3 linked regions of the Homo sapiens genome follow. Changing the gene in region 1 together with any one later gene gives a genetic interaction. Each region holds a gene or a part of one and is shown on either strand. Other genes may lie near its edges. The genes, in order: NDUFB6, NF1 and STK11.

Evidence for each region.
Region 2: changes in NDUFB6 (region 1) and NF1 together harm fitness more than expected from each alone (negative genetic interaction), as found in Homo sapiens cells (one large-scale study listed by BioGRID).
Region 3: changes in NDUFB6 (region 1) and STK11 together harm fitness more than expected from each alone (negative genetic interaction), as found in Homo sapiens cells (one large-scale study listed by BioGRID).

What each region holds. Positions count from the first base shown.
Region 1 is NC_000009.12:32,556,096-32,559,745, reverse strand, and holds part of NDUFB6 (NADH dehydrogenase [ubiquinone] 1 beta subcomplex subunit 6), read left to right. Parts: intron 1-791; coding exon 792-836; intron 837-3,650.
Region 2 is NC_000017.11:31,335,828-31,339,477, reverse strand, and holds part of NF1 (neurofibromin), read right to left. Parts: intron 3,146-3,650; coding exon 3,005-3,145; intron 2,844-3,004; coding exon 2,564-2,843; intron 2,111-2,563; coding exon 1,896-2,110; intron 1,660-1,895; coding exon 1,598-1,659; intron 1,454-1,597; coding exon 1,339-1,453; intron 775-1,338; coding exon 673-774; intron 1-672. UniProt on the Homo sapiens protein: Stimulates the GTPase activity of Ras. NF1 shows greater affinity for Ras GAP, but lower specific activity. May be a regulator of Ras activity.
Region 3 is NC_000019.10:1,219,238-1,222,887, forward strand, and holds part of STK11 (serine/threonine-protein kinase STK11), read left to right. Parts: intron 1-86; coding exon 87-176; intron 177-1,135; coding exon 1,136-1,268; intron 1,269-1,343; coding exon 1,344-1,480; intron 1,481-1,975; coding exon 1,976-2,103; intron 2,104-2,711; coding exon 2,712-2,769; intron 2,770-3,650. UniProt on the Homo sapiens protein: Tumor suppressor serine/threonine-protein kinase that controls the activity of AMP-activated protein kinase (AMPK) family members, thereby playing a role in various processes such as cell metabolism, cell polarity, apoptosis and DNA damage response.

The sequences.
Region 1 (3,650 bases):
AATTAAGCAGGGTAAAAACTAGAGAATGATAAGGCTTGCTATTTTAATTAGGCCTCTCTGAGGAAGTGATCTTTGAAGACAAACATAAATGAAATGAAGATACAGGTCAAGCAGTATTTAGGAGAAGAGCATTTCAGGTAGAGGAATCATGAAGTACAGAGGCCTTGAGGCACAAGCAGGCTTGACTGAATTGGACTCCTAGGAATGGAGCCACTGTGGCTGTAGTAGAGTAAGTGAGGGAGAAAAGACTGGCTTTTTCTCTAAGAATTATGAAACTTTGAGCAGAGTGACATATCTTAAAAGAATCAGTGTACTCTGCCTTGAAGTGTGGAGAATAGACTTTTCATTTGCATAGGAGGGCACAAGTGGAAGCAGGGAGGCTAGTAGGTGCTGTTGTGGTAGTTGAGGTGAAAATATGATAGAGGCTTGGACAAGGCTGGTGATGAGAACCAGTTGGATTCAGGGTATATTCTTAAGATAGAATTAACAGGCTCTGCTGAGGAGTCAAGGTTTCTGTCTTTCATAACTGGGGGAATAAGAGTGTCATTTACTGAGATGGGGGACATGGGGAGGAACAGTTTGGGGATGGGAGAAGTTAAGTGTGGGACCTGGTTAAGTTTGAGATGCCTGTTTGATAGCTAAGTAGAGATGTTGAGTAAACAGTTGGATATGTGAATCTGGAGTTCTGTGAAAGTTTGGAGCTTAAGTTAAAATTTGGGGTATGACCTATTTCTTATTTTCAGAAGAAACTCTTAACACCATAATTAACACAGAGTTAACTTTTATTACAGGAAAAACCATATGGCATAGTTGAAAAGAAGTCCAGAATATTCCCTGTAAGTCTTAACACTTCTGATTTTTCTTTTGTTTATTGTTTTTCTCTTTCCTTTTCCTCCCTTTCCAAGCAATTATTAGATTAAAATGTTCTTTCCTTCTCACTTTCGGTTTAAGTCCCTGTTTTGTGTATTCTTGTAAAAAACAAAACAAAACAAAAAAAAACAGGAAGAAATACCGTGAGGTAACAATTACAGTTCAAATGGGAAGTGAGCACATTTATTTTCAACCTGGCTGTAAAACGTGTTTTGTGACCTTGATTTTCCTAAAGGGAGTTGAAAGTACCAAAAGTTTTTCACTGTGTCCTGTTTCATGTTGGGTAAAGAGCTTAGGGCATGAGCCTAAGCAAACATCCATGCATGGTGACAGCAACTGAATTTCTGTTATTAATTCCAAACTCTCATGTCCTATGGCTTTGTACCTCATTTTCAAGATTTGACCTTAAGTTCTCCATCTGTGAATTTAATATCCACTAATGGGTGTTTTAAATTTTATACTATGGGCCAGGCACAGTGGCTCATGCCTGTAATCCCAGCACTTTGGGAGGCCAAGATGGGTGGATCGTGAGGTCAGGAGATCGAGACCATTCTGGCTAACACGGTGAAACCCCGTCTCTACTGAAAATACAAAAAATTAGCTGGGCGTGGTGGCGGGCGCCTGTAGTCCCAGCTACTCGAGAGGCTGAGGCAGGAGAATGGCGTGAACCTGGGAGGTGGAGCTTGCAGTGAGCCGAGGTTGCGCCACTGCACTCCAGCCTGGGTGACAGAGCGAGACTCCGTCTCAAAAAAAAAAAATGTATACTATGAATGTGTGAGCTATAGTACTAATTTGAAATGAGTTATTTTAGCATTAAAAGGTGACTCAGTAGTCAGTTGGTATTTACTAGCTGTTTGTGAGGTTATTGTTTAGCATAGTAGAATACATACTATGTTCTTGTCTATTTCTAGTCACAGATAATGAACTATCATAACTCAAAAGTACACAATTTAAATAACAAAAGTGTGATTCTTGCTTTAATCAAATGACTTAGTCACAGTAATGATTATCTGTTGCAACAGGGGAATTTTAGGAAGGGCCACCAAAACTGGCCAGCGGTCCCAGTTGGAACGCTGGTTTAAGAAATAGTTGGGGGAGGGGCCAGGCGCGGTGGCTCACGCGTGTAATCCCAGCACTTTGGGAGGCCAAGGTGGGTGGATCACAAGGTCAGAACTTCGAGACCAGCCTGGCCAACATGGTGAAACCCCGTCTCTACTAAAAATACAAAAATTACCGTGCGTGGTGGCGGGCACCTGTAATCCCAGCTACTGAGGATGCTGAGGCAGGAAAATTGCTTGAAACTGGAAGGCGGAGGTTGCAGTGAGCTGAGATCGTGGCACTGCACTCCAGCCTCAGAAATGAGTGAAACTCCATCTCAAAAAAAAAGGAAAAAGGAAAAAAAAAAGTAGGGGGTATCGGGGGCTCATGCCTGTAATTACAGCACTATGGGAAGCCGAGGTGGGTGGATCCCTTGAGGCTAGGGGTTCGAGACCAGCCTGGCCAACATGGTGAAACACCATCTGTACTAAAAAAAAAATACAAAAATTAGCCAGGTGTGGTGGTGCACGCCTGTAATCCCAGCTACCTGGAGGCTGAGGCACAAGAATTGCTTGAACCTGGAAGGCAGAAGTTGCAGTGTGCGGAGTTTGCGCCACTGCACTCCAGCCTGGGTCACAGAGTGAGACTCTGTCTCGGGAAAAAAAAAAAAAAAAAGTGGGGGCCAGGCGCGGTGGCTAACACCTGTAATGCCAGCACTTTGGGAGGCAGAGGCAGGTGGATCACCTGAGGTCAGGATTTTGAGACCAGCCTGGCCAACATGGTGAAACTCCATCTCTACTATTAATAAAAATACAAAAATTAGCTGGGCATGGTGGTGCACGCCTGTAATCCTAGCTACCGGGGAGGCTGAGGCACAAGAATTGCCTGAACCTGGGAGGCAGAGGTTGCAGTGAGCCAAGATTGCGCCACTGCACTCCAGCCTTAGCGACAGAGCACCCTGCCTCAAAAAAAAAAAAAAAAAAAAAAAAAAGTAGGGGATTTCTCCTTTTGTTTTATTGTGTAACATTGATGTGTGTTACAGCCTAGGTAGTCTCAAAATAGGAAATTATCTTGCTGGTTTTTCCAGCTGGGCAATTTATATTTATTTAGTCTTCCATTTATTCCATTTAAATGTTAATTTATTTTGCCATTTACTGTTCAAAGGAAAAGGAGAGCTCTATTCAGAAGACCATATCAGGGATCCTGTAGCATTTCTCATATTTCTGTATTTTTTGCCACTGTGGTTCTTTCTTGTTTCTGTGCCATGACCCCTTTGAGGAACTGAAGAATGCTCATTGTATATATGTTTAGAATAGGACAAGTAATAACAAACTTCCAAATCTCAATGGCTTAACAAAACAGAGGTTTATTTCTTGTTGACATCACAGACTACTGTGAATCAGGTGATCTTCCTCAATCTTACAGCCGTGCCTATCGAATATGAGGTTCCAAGATTGTGATACAAAGATACGGCAGGATGTCTCAGGGGATGATTTTTAGGATCTAAGCTTAGAAGTAGCTTACATCACTTCTGCTCAAATTCTGTTAGCTAAAACTCACTGTCATCTTCCCAAATATTATCTGTGTGCTCTTTGCTATTTCCCAGACCCCTGTTCATGGAGTTTCTGCTACATTCCATCTTTCTAGTCACCAAACAGCTCTTGGCTTCTTTCTTTACCCATGCATAACACACTTAGTCTCTCTCCTTAGGGAGAAATCCCAAAGTCCCATTCCATCATTGC
Region 2 (3,650 bases), on another chromosome or scaffold:
AACCACTTTAGAACTGGATGGTAATACCATGCCATTATCGAATCTTTTTCATTTTATTAATACAAAAACATGATTTCCAGATATCTTAAATATAAAAATGGGATAAGGTCAGACCATCCTAAAACAGTGGCCACTTCATTTTACTCCTTTTAAATATAATCTTCATTTGGCACCCAAACTCTTATGACGATCAAGTATACTTCTCCCAGCTTTAATTTCTCCATAGTAATAATCACTAACATACTACGTATTTTGTTTACTTCATTATCCATTCACTCCCCAACCTCCACACCCACCCCAGAAAGTAAGCTCCATGAAGGCAGTGAGTTTTATGGGCTTTGTTAGTACTCTATCTCTAGCGCCTAAAACAGTACTTGGCAATAGCAGATAATTAATAGTTATAAGATAAAATAATTAAGAATATATACCTATCTTTCCTTTAGCACTGATGAGACCAAAAACTTACAAGCGCTTGAGAACATACTATCCATACTTACTCTTCTTCTAATATGACTACTTCAAACAACTAAACTTTAAGAGGTTCTACTTTAACTATAGTTTTTTCTTTATAACTTATTCTCAATTCATCTTATTTTCTAAACTCTTTGAAAGAAAGTAACATTCAACACTGATACCCAAAATGAATGCACTCATTTTCTATACAGTAATTACCTTATTAAGAAGTGGCTGTAATTTGGTTAGTGCTATTACTGTAGCTTCTATCAGAACTTGACTGTTGTAAGTGTCAGGTCCTTTTAAGCAACTCTCAAGTGCCTTTTAGGAAAACAGAATTTTTTATTTTACTTTCATTGAAATAAAACATTAACTCCTAAACTGAATCTCGGAATGAATTCAGGAACATTTACTTATTTAATAAATGCTAGAATGATTTCTCATGCTATGGTGATCTTGGTAGCTAGCTTAATGTACATTTGTTTTCTTATTTTTTGACATTTCTACATTATAAGAGTCAGACATTATTATAGTAATTACAAATTAAATAATTTTATGCAAGGCTATAGTCTTACCATATAATTAAATGCTTTGAAAACTGGTAAAATACTAAGTGTACCTGCTTAGCAAAAGAGGCAACATATTTTATTTTAAAGACATCTTCCTTAATGAAGTAATCAGAGTTTACATATAAAGACAGCTTCTTTAGAGAAGACTTCTTCAAAGAATTACAATAAATAATCAAAATACATTTTAAAGGCTTAATAAGTAACATATAAGATATTTCATTGACCTCAAATTTAAACGTCTTTTAGAAAAATGAAAGATATGCTTTACAACTTGAGAACCATAAATATTTGGGAGAAGTGAGGGCGGAACAGGTACCTTGCTAAGAATACGGATTATCTGCTTTATCTGCCCATGAGACACTCGTTTGCTAATACACCCAAAGACAACAAGAGCTCTTGGTTGCAGGGATGGATTATATTGGAATGCAAATCTGCAATTAAAAGATCCACAGAACTTATAAAAACCTTTGTGTTTATATATACTAAATAATAAATTATAACATTGATCATACAGTAATAGCTGTATTTTCAACAATATGCATATTTTTACAACTTATATTTAATTTAGGACATACCTTTGAGCTAGTTCTGTCCACTGGTCCAGCCACTTGCACGTTGGAATATCTCTCATGCATGCCTAAAAAAGGGGATACTCTGAATACATATTGTACATAAATGTTTTTAGAACTGTTTAAATAATGTTTATTATGATGTCATTAAGTGACCTGTTACCAATAACACAGTCCATGCAAGTGTTTTTATTTAAGCATTAAGTACAAAATAGCACAATAAACCAATATTTCTTCTATATAGTATTAACATATTTTTAAAAAAAGATTTTAACTTAGTTTCTTATCATTTTGGCTTCTATACCTCCATGATCTCCAACAAAGCTTCTGTGACTGTTTCCAAGGATGTCAAAGCAAAAGTCTCTCTCTCATAGGAGCCAGGAGAGAATGACCTGTCCCGGTAACTGGAACGGAAGGCAATGACAGCAGCTGACTTGACTTTGCTAATGCCAAACAGCAAGTAAAATTTGGGTAATGAGAACTCTGTCAGACTGAGTCTCAAAACTTGCTTGGTCTCTTCTGTAAGAGAATAAAGGAACAAGTAAAGACAGAAAATATTACTTTTTAATTTCTAAAGTTCCATGTTTCATTTTGAATTTAGAAAATTTGAATACCATATAAAAATTACATAATCATGTTCCCTAAATCAAACCTCTAGATACATTGTATTAATGCTCCTTGCTTCATTTATCTACAAATTAGTGCTGGTAACTGAACATGGTCAACTGGCACTGAGTATTCCGCTTATGGGATAACTCTACATGACAAGTATGCATAGAAAATCTTTACTATAGCTTGATATGGAATGGAAGTAATTTATTTTCTTTTTGGTAATATTTCATGTCATTACTGGAGGCTTAAATTAGCAACTTGGTGTTAGAGCACAAACATAAATAAGATAATCTATATTGATCAGGTGAAGTAAAATGGAGAAAGGAACTGGTAAACACAAATTCCTTTCCTAGAACTTACCACTAAAATGAAGCTGTGAACAAGTACACAGAGAGTGAATGATATTAATGACCAGTCCATGTGTGGAAGCTCTAAGGGAGAGCGGACCTGTGGCTACTAAGAAAGTAACAACGTGGAAGAGGTAGGGAAGATGAGCTGCCACATCAAGGGAATTGTTGAAGGACAGCATCAGCATGTAGCGTGCTAAAATAGCAATATCATCCCACATAAGATGTTGTTCTAAAGTAGGAGTTGGAGATAAGCATGTCTTGTCAATTATTTTGCACATCCTTCCAATAACCTGTAAAGAAGCAGGATTTTTTTTTTTAAAAAAAAAAACATGGGACTCAAAGTTTTAGCACAAAAAAGTTCAGTTTAATTTAAAAGTAATTACAAAACAAAAAACCTCCTGATGATAAAACAGATATGCTATAGTACAGAAGGCAAAAGAAAAGTGATTACCTTGCTTGAAACCAATTTCACATTTCCAGAAGCCAAAGCTACAGCAGTATCTGCCATCACCTCAGCTTTTATTGATCCCAAGCCACCTGTTGCACTGGTTTTGATGAAACTGTCTAGTACAACATCAAGCAGATCTGTAATCTAGTTGAAGAAGGAAAATAACATGTTTTTAATCACTCTACCAATTTAATTTTTAATTAAAAAATATTCATTGGAACAGCCTAATCAATATGAAAATTCTATTTTACCTGAGGCCTCAAAAATACTAGATTTTATTTACAGGCCTGTCAGTAAATACAATTTATTATAAAATATCCAGTAAAGGATGAGTATATTCATTTGACTCCTTCAGAGATTAAGAGATTGGTATTCAAAAATTTTAAATCTCTATCAATACTATCTTCAGTCACTTGCAAAGTATCTCTATGCTTTTCTAAGACAGTAATGTAGCATCAATATAAAATAGTAATTTGAAAATACAGAGCTGGGTGCAGTGGCTCACGCTTGTAATCCCAGCACTTGGGGAGGCTGAGGCGGGCGGATTGCTTGAGGCCAGGAGTTCAAGACCAGCCTGGGCAACATGGCAAAACCCTATCTCTAAAAAAAAAAAAAAAAAAAAATACAAAAATTAGCCAGGTGTGTTGGT
Region 3 (3,650 bases), on another chromosome or scaffold:
CCCTCCAGAGCCCCTTTTCTGGCCCCCGTGCTCCCTGGGCCTGTGAGTGGGGCCGCCCCCTGAGCTGTGTGTCCTTAGCGCCCCACGTATATGGTGATGGAGTACTGCGTGTGTGGCATGCAGGAAATGCTGGACAGCGTGCCGGAGAAGCGTTTCCCAGTGTGCCAGGCCCACGGGTGCGTGCGCGGGGCAGGGGCCAGGGTGGGGCGGGGGCCGGGGGCCAGGCAGGGCAGGCTCCTTTCCGTGAGGCCACACTGCTTGTCCTGATATTCATTGACATGAAGGCCCAAGTTTTTTTGTTTTTTTGTTTTTTTGTGTTTTTTTTCGAGATGGAGTCTCACTCTGTCGCCCAGGCTGGAGTGCAATGGTGCGATCTCGGCTCACTGCAAGCTCCGCCTCCGAGGTTCACGCCATTCTTCTGCCTCAGCTTCCCGAGTAGCTGGGATTACAGGCGCCCGCCACCACGCCCGGCTAATTTTTTGTATTTTTAGTAGAGACGGGGTTTCACCGTGTTAGCCAGGATGGTCTCAAACTCCTGACCTCGTGATCCGCCTGCCTCAGCCTCCCAAAGTGCTGGGATTACAGGCATGAGCTACCACGCCCGGCCTTGTAAAGGCCCAAGTTTTTAAAAACAGTTTTGGGGTCCCCCATGTGTGGCATCCACAGGCAGGGCTGCTGCCAACCTCCCGCCTCCATCTTTGCTGGGCCTGCTGCCTGAGGCCAGTGGCCTGCTTCCAGCCCATCGCTGGCAGCCGCCTGCCCTGACCAGATCTCCTGGATGCAGGTCTGTGGCCTCAGAGTCAGGGCCCCTTGCTGCTGCAGGACCACAGGGGCAGGGAGGGGCCTGCTGTTCCAGCAAGACTTTGGGGTGCAGCCGGCCTGTGGCCCACAGGAAAATGAGACCTGTGGACATCCGGGGCCCTGCCAGACGTGGCTCGGCCGGACGAGGGTGGCCACTGCAGGCGCAGGTGTGGCTCCCTGCTGGACCTAGCCTTTCCTCTGTCCTGTGTGCCTGGACTTCTGTGACTTCCCAGCTGGGCCTGTGGTGTTTGGGAGGCTCCCAGGCAGCTGCAAAGGGGACCCCTGTGAGGGGCAGGGAGGCCTCGGCCCCAGGACGGGTGTGTGCTGCCCGCAGGTACTTCTGTCAGCTGATTGACGGCCTGGAGTACCTGCATAGCCAGGGCATTGTGCACAAGGACATCAAGCCGGGGAACCTGCTGCTCACCACCGGTGGCACCCTCAAAATCTCCGACCTGGGCGTGGCCGAGGTAGGCACGTGCTAGGGGGGGCCCTGGGGCGCCCCCTCCCGGGCACTCCCTGAGGGCTGCACGGCACCGCCACAGGCACTGCACCCGTTCGCGGCGGACGACACCTGCCGGACCAGCCAGGGCTCCCCGGCTTTCCAGCCGCCCGAGATTGCCAACGGCCTGGACACCTTCTCCGGCTTCAAGGTGGACATCTGGTCGGCTGGGGTCACCCTGTAAGTGCCCCGCCCCCCCGGGCACTCACCACACGCACACTCCGAGGGGCCTCTGCGTCTTGGGCAGCTGCCGGCCTGTGGGCGCAGGGCGTGGCCACCGGCCCAGACCCTCTCTGGCCACAGCCGCTAGGGGGTGCTTACTTTATGGAAATGTAACTCATACGGCAGATGGTGGTTCACCCGTGTGAAGTGCAGCCTGGCCCGTCAGGGATCTTCACAGAGTGGCACGGCCGACCCTCCTCCCAGAGCCCCACAGGGAAGCTGGGCGGGTGACAGCAGCTCCAGGCCCCTTCCCCGGGTGGGTCCAGAGGACACTCCCCTCCTACCCCGTAGCCTCCACTAGTGGAAGGTGGTGAAGACAGAGGTGTCCTTGAGTCCACAGGGCCTCTGGTCCAGCAGCCACGGGACGCCTCTGTCCCTGGGGTAGAGCTGGGGCTCCTAGGGCGTCAACCACCTTGACTGACCACGCCTTTCTTCCCTCCCCTCGAAATGAAGCTACAACATCACCACGGGTCTGTACCCCTTCGAAGGGGACAACATCTACAAGTTGTTTGAGAACATCGGGAAGGGGAGCTACGCCATCCCGGGCGACTGTGGCCCCCCGCTCTCTGACCTGCTGAAAGGTGGGAGCCTCATCCCTCTGCCCGCAGCCCCAGGGAGGCGGGGCTTTTGTGCAGAAATGTAGGGTTGGGGGTGTCAGGTGGGGGGCTATTGGCCCCGAGACCCCAGCAGGCATTGAGAGGACTGAGTGGAGAGGCCGACCTCCCCGCAGGGCCTGGTTTGCCAGGTCCCTCAGCTCCACCCTGCTTCTGGGCCCTGTTCACCCTCCGAACTCCCACCCCAGAGGGCAGTGCTGCCCTGCGCCTCCCCCAGCCCCACCCTCGGGGGCTCCCTGGCTTGCAGGGTCTGTCAGGGTTGTCCTGCTGCACTTCCTACGCATGGCAGCAGGTGGCACTGGCCGTCCGTCCATCTGCCCAGTGGCCTTGGGAGAACGGAACCGCCCTGGCCGTCCAGCCCAGCCCTGTCTCCCTGCCAGCCGCGCACAGGCTGTCCCCGGCATGTCCCAGGAGTGGAGTGGCCTCTGTCAGGGAGACCGCCTGTGCGCGGGGTCCCCCTTAGGAGCGTCCAGGTATCACCCAGGGCCTGACAACAGAGGCTGGGCAGGCGGGGACGGTTGGTGGGGTCTCAGGCCTGTGCCCAGCTGACAGGCTCCTCGCCGGCTTCTCCTCAGGGATGCTTGAGTACGAACCGGCCAAGAGGTTCTCCATCCGGCAGATCCGGCAGCACAGGTGAGCGGCCCCTGGGGGCAGTGGGGCCGAGGCTGCAGGGAGGCCGGCCATGTGGGCAGCTGGTTGAGCGGGCGCTAGAGCAGGGCGTGGTGGGGGTGCCAGGCTGGGCTGGGGCCAGACCCCGTGCAGCGCCCGCAGTTCTCGGGGCCCGAGTGGGGTCTCTGGGCAGTGTCCTGTTACCGGCCAGACCCAGGCGCCTTGTCCGAACTGGGGTCTGAGTGAGGACATGCGTCCGTCCCTGCCCTAGGCATGGAGATGCGCCAGGAAGGGCACAGCTGGTCCCAAACACTGGCGAGAGCCTCTCTTTTTCCCCTCCTCCTGGGGCTCCCAGCAGCAGGGTGTGGCTGGGATCCAGCCCAGGGCCCCCAGCTCCATGACAGGGAAGACAGAGCAGCGGACGGGGTCAGCAGGCCCCACAGTGCCGCCTCCCTCACTTCGTGGGCTCTGCTCCTCTGCACCAGCCCCTGGAGGCCCTTGAGCCGTCTGCTGGAGCCCCTCCGAGCCCCGAGGCCACCCACTGAGACCGGCTCTGGGAGTGGGAGTGTCCGGACCCCTGAGGCGCTGGTGCTGATTGTGCCTTGGGGGTCTCTGCACAGCTCGGGTCATCTGGGCGCCTGGCGGGGACTGGGGCTGCCCCCCGATAGCCTCCTGGGCTGGGATGTGCTCAGGGCCCCCCAGACCCCCTTCTGGCCTTTGCTGGCTTTGCAGCCAGCATCCATCTGGTGGGTGCTGGCTTCTGAGTGCCACCTGGGACACAGGCCTCAGGGTGGAGGGGACATCTGTCAGGCTTGGAGTCAGGTCAGCCTGCCTGCTCCTAGAGGACATGGCTGAGCTTCTGTGGTCACAGCCACCCCTTGCACGGCCTGGTCCCAGCTCCTGAG